2 separate regions of the Homo sapiens genome follow, and region 1 is linked to region 2. Evidence: fine-mapped expression QTL. Tissue or cell type: whole blood. Region 2 holds a variant in brackets; the other region holds the start of a gene. All regions are shown on one strand. Distances are from middle to middle.

Region 1 (5,358 bases), 78 kb after region 2:
GCCGCATGGACAGGCTCTGCGCTCAGTGACTCAAAGGCCACCTCTGGGTCTGGTTCCCCTTTCTGTCTGCCTGGACTCAGGTGGGCACCAGCCTCCAGGTGACCTCTTCCCCTGAGGTCACAGGGGGAACCAATATCTGGAGGAGAAAGGGACAAGAAGCCCTGTGGGGAAGCAGCAGGCCCGAGTGCCGGCCGGAGAGTCCCAGCACCATCCCATTCCACTTTGCAGCTAGGGACGTGGGCACAGGAGAGGTCTGGGCACCCACCCCGGGCACCAGAGGAGCCAAGGACGAGGGATAAGGGTCAGTCGCCAAGCTCAGGATGGCCCACCTGGCGGTGACAAAGTGAGAGGTGAGACAGAGGTGGACGGGGGCCGGAGGCTGACCTCAAGGCGTCCCCTGCAGGGTGCATCCATGGAGATGGGGTTGGGACCTGGCCTGGGGCAGCCGGGGCCTTCCTGGGGCACTGTGGCCATGGAGAGAGGGTGCAGGGTGCGGGGGCATCCAGGCTGCCCAAGCGGAGGCTGGGCCGGCTGTGCTGGCCTCTTACCTGGGTCACACATTTGGCACTGCAGACACTTGCTTAGGCCATTGAGGTGGGCAATGTAGGTGCCTGGAGGGCAGGGTTCACACACTGTGCCCGTCAGCTCCCCGCAGGCCTCCTTCACACGATAACCTGCCGCCCAGAGAGTGGGAACTTCGCAAGTCTGCGGGAGGCCCCTTCGGGAGCCCACCCATCACTCCACCCGCGCCCAGAGCCCAAGCAGGGAGACACCAGCTAAGGGGACTCAAATGGCCCATGAGCCCCACGGGACACAGCAGCCCCATCAGCCATGAGCAGAGCTGCTCTGGGGAAAATCGGAAAGTTCTGGAAGCACATGGGGCCTCCTGGGACACCTGGCCCGGCTCTGGTATGTGCCCCCGAGCCCATGTCTCTGGCCACGGTGGGCCAGCCACGTCTCTCAGACCCACCCCCTGTGCAGTGTGACTGTGAGGGTCCCCCAGGGTGAAGAGTCCAAGCTGCTGGCCTGGGGGTTCTGCCCTCACTGTCTGCACACCTAGCCCCAGGGCTTCATCACACCCATGGCTGTGGGGGCAGAGAACACAGGGGTGTCTGGGGCAGAAGGGGGCAAGAGTGTCTGCCCTCGGCCCACAGAGCTGGCCCGCCAAAGGGCTGCACCTACCTGGACTGCACTTGGGGCAGCACTCGGAGCCCACTGGGTACTCGTCCTCCTTGCAGGACGGCAGAGCTGGGGCGTAGCAGGGGGCTCCCAGGAAGGTGAGATACAGCACCTAAGGGGGTCAGGACAGGCATTGGGAGATGCCCTGGCTGCCCTGTGGGCTCTGCCAGGCTTGGCCCCACAGCCTGAATCTCCCTCTGTGCAATGGGGAGGAGCGGCAGTGCCTGGTAGAGAGGACAGAAGCGGGCCCCAGGCCAGGCTCATGGAACAACCTTGCCGACCGCTGGAGCCCGGGATAGGGTGGGGACCGCCCCTCCTCCAGCCCTGATGACGCTGCCTGGCAGCGCGGAGCCCTGGGAACTGGAACTCTGCCCTCGCCAGGGACCCCACACCCCACACCTGGGAGCATTGAGCCCACTGGGCAGACAACCTGCCGGCCCCCCTGCTGGCCTAGGTTGGACCTGCTGACCCCTGAAGAGCCAGCAGGGGCAGCCAGGGATGGGCCCCAGAGGCTCACAAGCCAGACAGTGGGTGACAGGCTGATCAGGGCCACATCGGGGAGGGTGGCTCTGCCGTGGCCTCGTTCCTGGGCTGGCTGATGGGCAGTCGGGGGCCCCTGATGGGGATAGTGGCTGGACAGGCAGGAGTGCCACATGAGCATGGAGAGTATCCCCACCCCACCCACCTGGGTCCAGCCCCCTGCTGCACACTGATCTTATCACCTGTCACCAAGGTCAGGGCTGCCGGGGAGTTGGGTCACCTGCTCGAGGGCCCCGCCCAGAGACGCCCAGAGACACCCAGCCCCCAGAAGTGCCCACATCCGGCCAAATGGGGGCTCACCAGCTGCCCGTGGACGGAGTGGTGAGTGGGGGACACACGCAGGAGGAGGTCTGCTGGGTAGGGCTGTGGCTCTGCTGCTCACCCCACTGTGGTGAGCCCAGTGCTGGGGGTCTGGGTTGACCCGAGAGCCCCAGGCAGCAGGGGACGGGCTGGACGCCGGAGCCAGCAACGGCCAGGACAGGGGCATGGGGAAGAGATCTGTGGGAGGCCCTGGGGTCAGAACTGGGATCTGCGAGCAGACGGAGAGGAGGCTCGGGGGCTCACCAGCCTCAAGACGTCGGTTTTGGGGGTGGATCTCCAGGGAGGAGGCCCCCAGTCTCCAGGAGGCTCCATGCCTCAGGCTCAGACCGGCAGCTCGGGAACCCAGCTAGCAGGATGAACTCCAGCAGAGGAACTCAGCGCCATTGCTGCGGCTGTGGGCCAGAAGAGAAAGAGAAAGAGAAAGAGAATCCGCCTCGGTGTGACAAGCTGTGCCTCAGAACCCGAGCAGCAGGAGAGTGGGCAGCAGGGGGTGTCTGGCAGCAGAGAGGGGCTCAGGCCTGCTGGGTGGAGCGGCGCTGGGGGACACAGGTGGGCCCTGCGGGAGGCAGGAGCTGTCCAGGCAAAGCCGAGGGGAAGGGCCGGTATGAAGGAGGCGCCCGATGGGAGGGGCGAGTTCTCCCCCTGCACCATTCCAGTCCACTCCGGGTTTCCTGTAGAAGGGGGAGCCCCCCAAAGTCCATCTGTGTTTCCCCACCTCACTCACACACTCAGGGACCCTCGGCTGCTCCCCGGGGCGCTGACTGACATTTTTGCCGAATAAAGGGGCCCTGTGGGTTTCCTGTTCCCATCTCAGCTTCTGCTGAACAGGGTAAACTTCCCTTCCGAATAAAACCACCAGAATGCGGTCTGGCCAATTTCAGTCATAGACCCACCAGGCCTGTGTCCCTGCGTGAGGGGGTGGGAAAAGCCCAGAGTGCCCCTACCCGTCCCCTGGGAGGGGTGGAAGGGCAGCTCTTGCTCCCCCTGCAGAGACGCTGCGCGGACTGGGAAGGCTGCCAGCCTCGCCCGGTCTCCCTGTGGACCCTGCCCTGACCCCACCCCAGCTTCCTGGCTCCCTGCACCCCACTGGGCTTCCCTGCCCCACAGAGCCTGGTGGTAGGGAGACCTCCGGATGGAGACAGCCCACAGTCCCGGAGCCCCAAGGCAGGCACCAGTGAGTCCCTCGTGACGGCCTCGCTCCCTGCATCACATGGAACCTCGTGACCCACGTGACGACGCCAGTGCCCCCGTGGCCCCTTCCTGCTGCTGGACGTGATGCAGTCAATGGAAGCCCAGGTCTGTCACGCACCGCCTGTGCTTGCCCAGAGCAGGTCCCAGTCACCCCCTCTGGCACCGCCTGCTGCACACCAGGAACCCCCACCTCCAGCAAGCCCATCTGCCAGACGCCTGGCCCAGGACCGCCCCCTGCCCCTCGACTGCCCCCTGCCCCTCCTGGTCCTGACTTCAGCCAGGTGACCCCCTCCAGGGTCCAGCCCTGGCCCCTGGGGGACTCAGTGGCATCTGGTGGAAAGGACCTTGGGGATTGCGCCCACCCTCACCTGCAGGAGAGTTGGCAGGGTGGCCAGCCACAGGAATCTGTGGCAGGAGCCCGGGGACCTGCACCCCAACTAGAAAGTGTGCAGCCCTGCAGGCCGGCCCTGGAGAGGGAGCAGGCAGGGGTGAAGTTAGGCCGGCTGTGGTGTGCGACACCGTCCTGTGGGGCCAAGCGTCCCGAGCTCCAGAGGCAGGTGCACTCCTGGCCAGCATCCAGGGTGGACGAGCCCAGACCCCAATACTCTGAGGCAGGGTGGGGGACCAGGTGGCACCCAGTGGAGGAAAAGCCCCCAAGAGACACGCAGGAGCATGGACTCCCACCCCACAGCTGGAGCCTGGGAGAGGAGCCCCATCTGCTGTTTCCCTGGTGCACTCACATCCTGGCCCTCAGCGCCCCCTGCCAGGAATGTCCCCCACATGCAGAGCCATGTGGGTCTTGCAAGGAAGAAGAAGGGGGCCCCTTGCATCCTCCACTCCCGGGGGCCCCAGGAGGGCATGGGGGCTCCAGGGTGCAGGGACAGCACGTTCCCTCACCAACTCCCCAAGAACGCCCAACCTCCAAGAGCAGACACAGCGCCTACACCTGCCGGTACGGGGCTCCAACCCCACTCTCTCAGATACGTCCTCCAGAGTCGTCTCATCCACCCCACCCTGGGGAGGAGGGAAACTGAGGCATGGCAAGAGACAAGACTAACACAGGCATCAGTGAGACTCAGCCCCTCCTGCCCCTTCCTCCATGCCCCTCCTACCCCGACTTCAGCTCCCACACCAAGGCCCCAAGCCTGACATAGGGCCCCAGGTGCCAGGCCTCAAGGGGGCTGAAGGGAGCCCATCTGCCCCACCGAGGGCACAGACAGTGCCAGGTCTTTGCTGAAATGTCACCTCTTCCTTGAGGCCTTCTCTGATTGCTGAGTAAGCCCTGTCCCCGCTCCCTGCTCCCCGTATCCGCCCGCCTCGGCCCTCCGTCCCTTTTCTCCCTTCTCTGTGGCCTGCCCGCTCTCACAGAATGCAGACTCCAGGGGTCCAGGGTGTTACCTCCCGGGCAGCAGGAGGAAATGTCCTGGGCTCCCCACCCAGCGCTCAGCGCCCCCCGCTAAGTACAGCACTCACTCCTTCATCCATTCAGCGTGGGCTCTCCCGGCACCAGCACCGCCAGGCCCTGTGCAGGACCCCAGGGTCATCAGGAAGGAAATGAGGCAGCCCAAGGAGGCGGGAGACGGGGCCCTACCCAGCACCCAGCCATCTGCATTGACACGGCTGCCCGCAGGATATCACTGCCCCCATCCCGGGGCCCACCATTACCAGCAGGGAGAGGGAGGCAGGTGAGCACCCCGAGCCCCACGCCTCCTGTCGCGGGGACTCCCCAGACCCAATGCTGTGCCAGTGCAGGCCAGGCAGGGGGCTGAGGCCGAGGCCTGGTCATTGCCATCCTGGTCACGATCTGGTGAAGGATTTGAGTCCAGAAGCCAAACGTCTACAGTCGTGTGGTGCGGACACTCAGGATGGACTGCCCAGGCCATGGGGGGCTCTGAGGGATGAAGAGGAAACTGCGGGGGCGAGGTGGGCTGCGCGTCTCTGAGAAAGTGTGTGAGTTGAGTGCTGCTGCAGAGGGAAGCTGGGGTCCACCGCTGGTGAGCGGGGAGGGGACGGGACACAGAACCGGCCGTGGCCCACCCCGAGACGGAGGCGCAGACACCAGGCCCGTTCTGTGCTCTGGAGGCTTTGGGCAGCTGTCAGGCTAGTGGACGGTGTGCAGAGCAGATG
Region 2 (5,360 bases):
GTCACTTTGAGGGCCTGTCTCTGGGGACCCCCTCCTAGTATGAATTTATGTATCAGTTGGGGTCTACTTGGGAGATGGAAACCACAACAGTGATTCTAATAGCATGAATTTAATGTGCAGAATTTTTCATTAGTTCTGGGTAAAAACAGCTCTAGGGAATCATGGAGGTTGCAACCACAAAATTCAGAGAGGTGACCTGGCTGGCGACACTGGTGATAATGGTCACCTGCCATGCAGCCTTTCAGCTCAGGTGGGCACACTCCTCTGCCCCTGCCCACTTCCTCTCCCAGGTGAATCTTGACCACACCTGTGCCTGGCACTGTGCACACATTCTCTGTTGTTCAACTCTGCGATCAATCTGGAAAAAAAAGAAAAAAAAAAAACCTTTTTAGGAGAGTAAAAGGAAAATAAATCTTGGGGCCCCAAAATCACTAAGCCAAAGGGAAAAGTCAAGCTGGGAACTGCTTAGGGCAAGCCTGCCTCCAATTCCATTCAAAGTCATTCCCCCGCTCGCTGAGATAGATGCATATCTGATTGCCTTCTTTGGAAAGGCTCATCAGAAACTCAAAAGAATGTAACTCTATCTTACATGTGTTGATTGATGTCTCATATCTCCCTAAAATGTATAAAACCAAGCTGTCCTCTGACCACCTTGGGCACATGTCAGGACCTCCTGAGGCTGTGTCACAGGTGTGCATCCTTAATTTTGGCAAAATAAACTTCCCAAATTGGCTGAGACCTGTCTCAGATTTTTGGAATTCACAAGTGAGGAGGCAGAGGCTCCAGCTACTGGGGATGGGCTGGTGGCTCAATGACACAGATTTTGGGGCAGCGGGACCACTGGGCCCCTTCCCTCCTGCCCTGGATACCCAGGGCCTGACTTCAGGAGGCAGCTGACAAGGAAGGTGGGGACCCCAGAGGCCCGGCTGTCGTCCCAGCAGCCGGAAAGAGGCTCACCCAGAAATGCTGGTGAGCCTCTTCTGACCTGTGCATCTTCTCTAAGTGGGGCACCTCATTCCTGCCCAGAGCGTAGCTGGGCAGACCTGAGGGAGAGGCCCTGCTCCCAATGGGCAGAGGAAATGCCCGTTGGGCACGTCTGGGGTGCACCAAAGCACAGGACCTGCCACCAGTAGCCTGGCCTGAGAGTGTGGGGCAGTCACAGGCAGGCGTCTCCAGGGCCTGAGGGCAGCCCCCAAGGCAGGGTGGACACGGCAACCTGGGTGAGGGCAGCCCCACAGCAGTGTGGACAAAGGCTAGTGCCCTCAAGGCCCACCCTGGCCCCAGGGCTGCTGCAGGAAGCACTTCCCTGACCCCCGTCCCACCTGCCTCCTTGGACCCCTGAGCTGGGGCTGCTCCTTGGATCTCCACATCCCACAGCAACCCAGAGAGTAGGAGGGGCAGGGAACACCCATTTTCCCCCAATCTCCCTAGGAGATGGGATTAATGTCCACCTCCGGGGTGCTGGGCTCTGGCTATGCGGGTGTCTGGGGGGACAATCCATGCAGGTATTTGCGGGGGATGGTCTGTGCGGGTGTCTGGGGGGATGGTCTGTGTGGGTGTCTGGGGGGACAGTTTATTCTGTGTAGGTTGTCTGGGGGGACAGTCTGTGTGGGTGTTTGGGGGCATGGTCTATGTGGGTGTTGGGATGGTCTGTGCGGGTGTCTGGGGGGACAGTCTGTGTGGGTGTTTGGGGGCATGGTCTATGTGGGTGTTGGGGGGATGGTCTGTGTGGGTGTTTGGGGGGCCAGTCTGTGTGAGTGTTTGGGGGCATGGTCTATGTGGGTGTTGGGATGGTCTGTGTGGGTGTTTGGGGGGACAGTCTGTGTGGGTGTTTGGGGGCATGGTCTGTGTGGGTGTTGGGGGGATGGTCTGTGTAGGTATCTGGGGGGACAGTTTATTCTGTGTAGGTTGTCTGGGGGGATGGTCTGTGCGGGTGTCTGGGGGGATGGTCTGTGTGGGTGTCTGGGGGGATGGTCTGTGTGGGTGTCTGGGGGGATGGTCTGTGTGGGTGTCTGGGGGGACGGTCTGTGCGGGTGTCTGGGGAGAGAGTCATCTGTGCAGGTGTTTGGGGCGGCTGGGTTGCACTGCCCTGGGCACCTGCAAATCTGTGAGTGTCCAGTGACCGGGGTAGGTCTCGGGGTCTGCAGCCTCCTTGGCCTTTAGCCTCCTTTCCCAGTTTCTCTTGTCTGGCAGGTGCCAGGCTAGGACCCAAGCCTCCTGCTGTCACCTAGAAGTAGGGAGAACCTGGGAATAAGGGGTCCCAAGTTTGGCAGCCCAGGTCACCAGGTGGCCTTGGGCCAGGCTGGGGGCTGCTGGGCTGGACAGGCCTGGGGTTCGGGAAGGAGGAGCATGCACAGGGCCAGCCTTGGGGAGTCGGTTCAGAGTCCAGGGAGCCCCTGCTGAGAGTAGGCCAGGCCCCTGCATCTGTTTCTCCCTCTGTGGATTTGTACCTTAGAGACAAGAACACTGTGACATCCAGAAAGGGCCTGCTGGCACCAGGGCTGTCGGGCAGGTGGGCTCGGAAAGGCTCTGGCCTCTCCCCATAGCAGGAGCCTCCAGCCAGGCTGGACCCTGGCCCACTCCCAGCTCCCCAGAAAGGGCGGTCCCAGCTTCCTGCTTGGCTGGCCTTGACATTGTTTCCATTTGGGCCAGCAACCCAGGCAGCCTGAGGCCAGACTGCAGCTCCTGGGCTGGTTGCTGGGCGTGATGGCAGGGGGCTGCTAGGACAGCCAGCGGGCCCCAGGGAGAGACTTCCCGGGCTCAGGGTGGTGTCTGGGATCTGATCCCAGCCTGGCTGCAGCTCGAAGCCTTTCTCCTCCCAGGGC[C/A]TGGCCAACCTAAAGGGCCATAGACAAAGCTTCCAACAGCACTCAGCGTGGGAGACCTGGCCGGGGCGGCCGTGAGGAGCAGTTTGCCGTGGGACCCCTAGCTCTGTGGCCCAGCCCTGCCCAGATGCCCTGACACATGCCCAAGGCCTGGGCAGGAGGACTCGTTCTGGGGATTCTGAAACAGAAGCTAGAAACCTCATCAGGCCTGGAGAATCAGACAGAGACTGCTCTGCCCAGAACCCCCGTCCGCAAGCAGGGCTGGGTGCAGGGCTCACACTCTGATCACTGCGAACCCTTCAGAAGCCACAGAGCCCTTCTGCCAGCTCCCCGGCCAGGGCTGCCCACCCTCTGTAGCTTGAGGTCTGAACCTCATGAGTTTTCTGTGGGCAGAGGGAAGCAGCCAAACCCAGGCTAGTATCTCTGGGTGGGACCCTCCTGGCAGCCAGCGCCCACCCCCTTCAGGACCACCCCTTCCCCTTGCACCTTGGCAAGATCCCCAGAACCCACCATCCTCCTTGGAGATTGAAGAGAAAGAACACCCAGGGTGGGGCCTTTGTAACCCCCCACCGGGTGGTTAGGGGCAGAGCAGAGGGTGTGGAGTAGGACAAGGGCCTGACCTTCCTCCCAGCAGCCCCTGGGGCCCCTTTGGACTGAAAGGTCAGGAGACAGAAGCAAGGAAGGAGGGCGGCTTGGGAGGCGGGGCCAGAGGCCCTGAGAAGGGCACCCATGAGGCAGGGCAGCCCGGGTGCCAAGAAGCTGCCCTCAGCCCCTCCCCCCATGCCACACCCCCAGTGGAACCTCCTGACTGTGAGCAGGAGTCACCGCCTCCAGGGAGCCCATGCCTGCATCACAAAGGAGGCCCAGAAGCCTTCAGGCAGCCTCAACTCAGCCCCAAGCCACTGCTCTCCCATCCCAGTCCCTGGAAATCCACCCACTTGGCCCAGCTCACCCCAACTCCAACCCACTGGGACCCAGTCTCCAGGGGCCTGACTGTGGGCGGCAGCCACTCCTGAGTGAGCAAAGGTGAGTTGTGCTGAAGGAAGGTACCCGGCCTGCTTTCCTGGGCCTTGAAACCCTCTCCAGGCCCTCTCCTGGGCCTTGAAACCCTCTCCAGGCGCTCAGCCCCTTTCTCAGGAGGCTGGGCAGGGCGTCCTGTGTGCAGTCTCGCCTGTGCCAGGGCAGGCAGCCCCCTCTGGCATACGGTTTATCTTACCCAAAGGACCCGCTGTCCCCCATCTGTAGTAACCTGGAGAGGCCACGAGTGTCCCCAGGGAGCCGCAGTGCCTTCGCCTCAGCAGACACTCCACACCTGCCCCGGGTACTTGGCTCAATTTGAAGGTGTTTATTTTGTGTGTGCCGTGGGGCACATGGAGCCGTCTGTGGATACCTGCAGGACAGAATGAATTCAGGACGCAGGAGCAGATTCATTAATTCTGACCAAAGAAAGAAGTTCGTGGAAGCTGAGCTCAGACTTGTCCAAATGATTGATCCATTCATTCATCATTCATTCATTCATTCACCCAACAGATAATGACCGAGGTCTCTGGGGTGGGGGTGCCAGTCTAGGTGAAGCGGCCCCCACAGAGGGTGCCCCTGCCCGTGGAGCTGACGTTCCCAGGGGGCTGCAGAAGTATCGAGGAGATGTGGAGGTGGAGCTGGGAGTCCCTGGAGAGACACAGAGCAGGGGAGGGGCTGGGGCTCCCCGAGTTGAACCCGAGGCCGAGCCAAGGAAGGCCCCACTGGGAAGGGGAGCTTGGCAGGAATCTGGGAGGCCTGCCTGGGTGGGTGGGGAGGGTGGGGGGAGAAACCTGGTGGGCCTGCCTGAGGGTAAGGGGAGGGCATAGTGAGAGGGGAGGAGGGCCAAAGAGGGTCCTGACATCAGGGCAAGGCCCGGCTCTTCCTCCAAGGGTTTGGCTACCAGGGGCCAGGGAGTGACGGCCTCTGATTCTAGTTACAGGCCCCTGGGCCCCTGTGGTGGGGATCAGTGGGTGAGACAGACCCCTCAGGGGGAGGTGATTGGTGGGGCCTGGAACAGGCAGCGAGTGGCAGGAATGAGAAAGGGTCCGACTGAGATGGGCTTGGAGGCTGAGGACTGGCGCGGGGTGTGGACGCAGGCAAGGGAGGCAGATGGCTCCAAAGTCCAGCTTCAGCCAGTGGCGGGATAGGGGTGTCTAGGGGCACAGCAGAGGGCGTCAAAGGAAGCATCTGAGGGTGTGTGGATGCATGAACGCTGCGGTTCACAGAGCCAGGGACTGAGAGAGGTGGCTGAGGGGACAGGAAGGGAGGAGCGAGGGACCTGGAGGAGAGGAGTGAGGTCCAGGTCCCCGTCCCCGCTCCTCACACAGCCAGAGGTCAGGGATCTCTGGAGGAGTCGCTGAAATGAGCTGGCCCAGCCACCTTTGCAGGGTGTTGCCCAGACAGGCTAAGGGACATCTAGGATCTCCCAGGGAGTCAGGGACAGAACTCAGGCAAAGTCCACAGCAGGGGGGCGGTGGGGTACAGGGGGGCGGAAGCACATTTAGCCCAGGTGCTGGC

The links. PIP is the estimated chance that this variant, and not a neighbour inherited with it, causes the effect.
Region 1: it holds the start of TNFRSF14, and the variant in region 2 is the best candidate, but not a certain one, in a credible set for the expression of TNFRSF14 in whole blood (INTERVAL, PIP 0.52).

Annotation. Positions count from the first base shown.
Region 1 is chr1:2,553,659-2,559,016 of GRCh38, reverse strand. TNFRSF14 (TNF receptor superfamily member 14) reads right to left here and starts at 2,646. Exons shown (of 8, transcript NM_003820.4): 1 at 2,284-2,646; 2 at 1,183-1,291; 3 at 549-674. The coding sequence starts at 2,352. It overlaps TNFRSF14-AS1 (TNFRSF14 antisense RNA 1), which reads left to right and starts at 2,006. Exons shown (of 7, transcript NR_037844.2): 1 at 2,006-2,040; 2 at 2,321-4,293; 3 at 4,721-4,916; 4 at 5,203-5,358.
Region 2 is chr1:2,631,354-2,636,713 of GRCh38, reverse strand. It overlaps MMEL1 (membrane metalloendopeptidase like 1), which reads left to right and starts at 3,698. Exons shown (of 24, transcript NM_033467.4): 1 at 3,698-3,848. MMEL1-AS1 (MMEL1 antisense RNA 1) reads right to left here. Exons shown (of 3, transcript NR_183343.1): 2 at 4,039-4,212; 3 at 94-358. The variant C/A (reference allele first, on the strand shown) is at 2,826.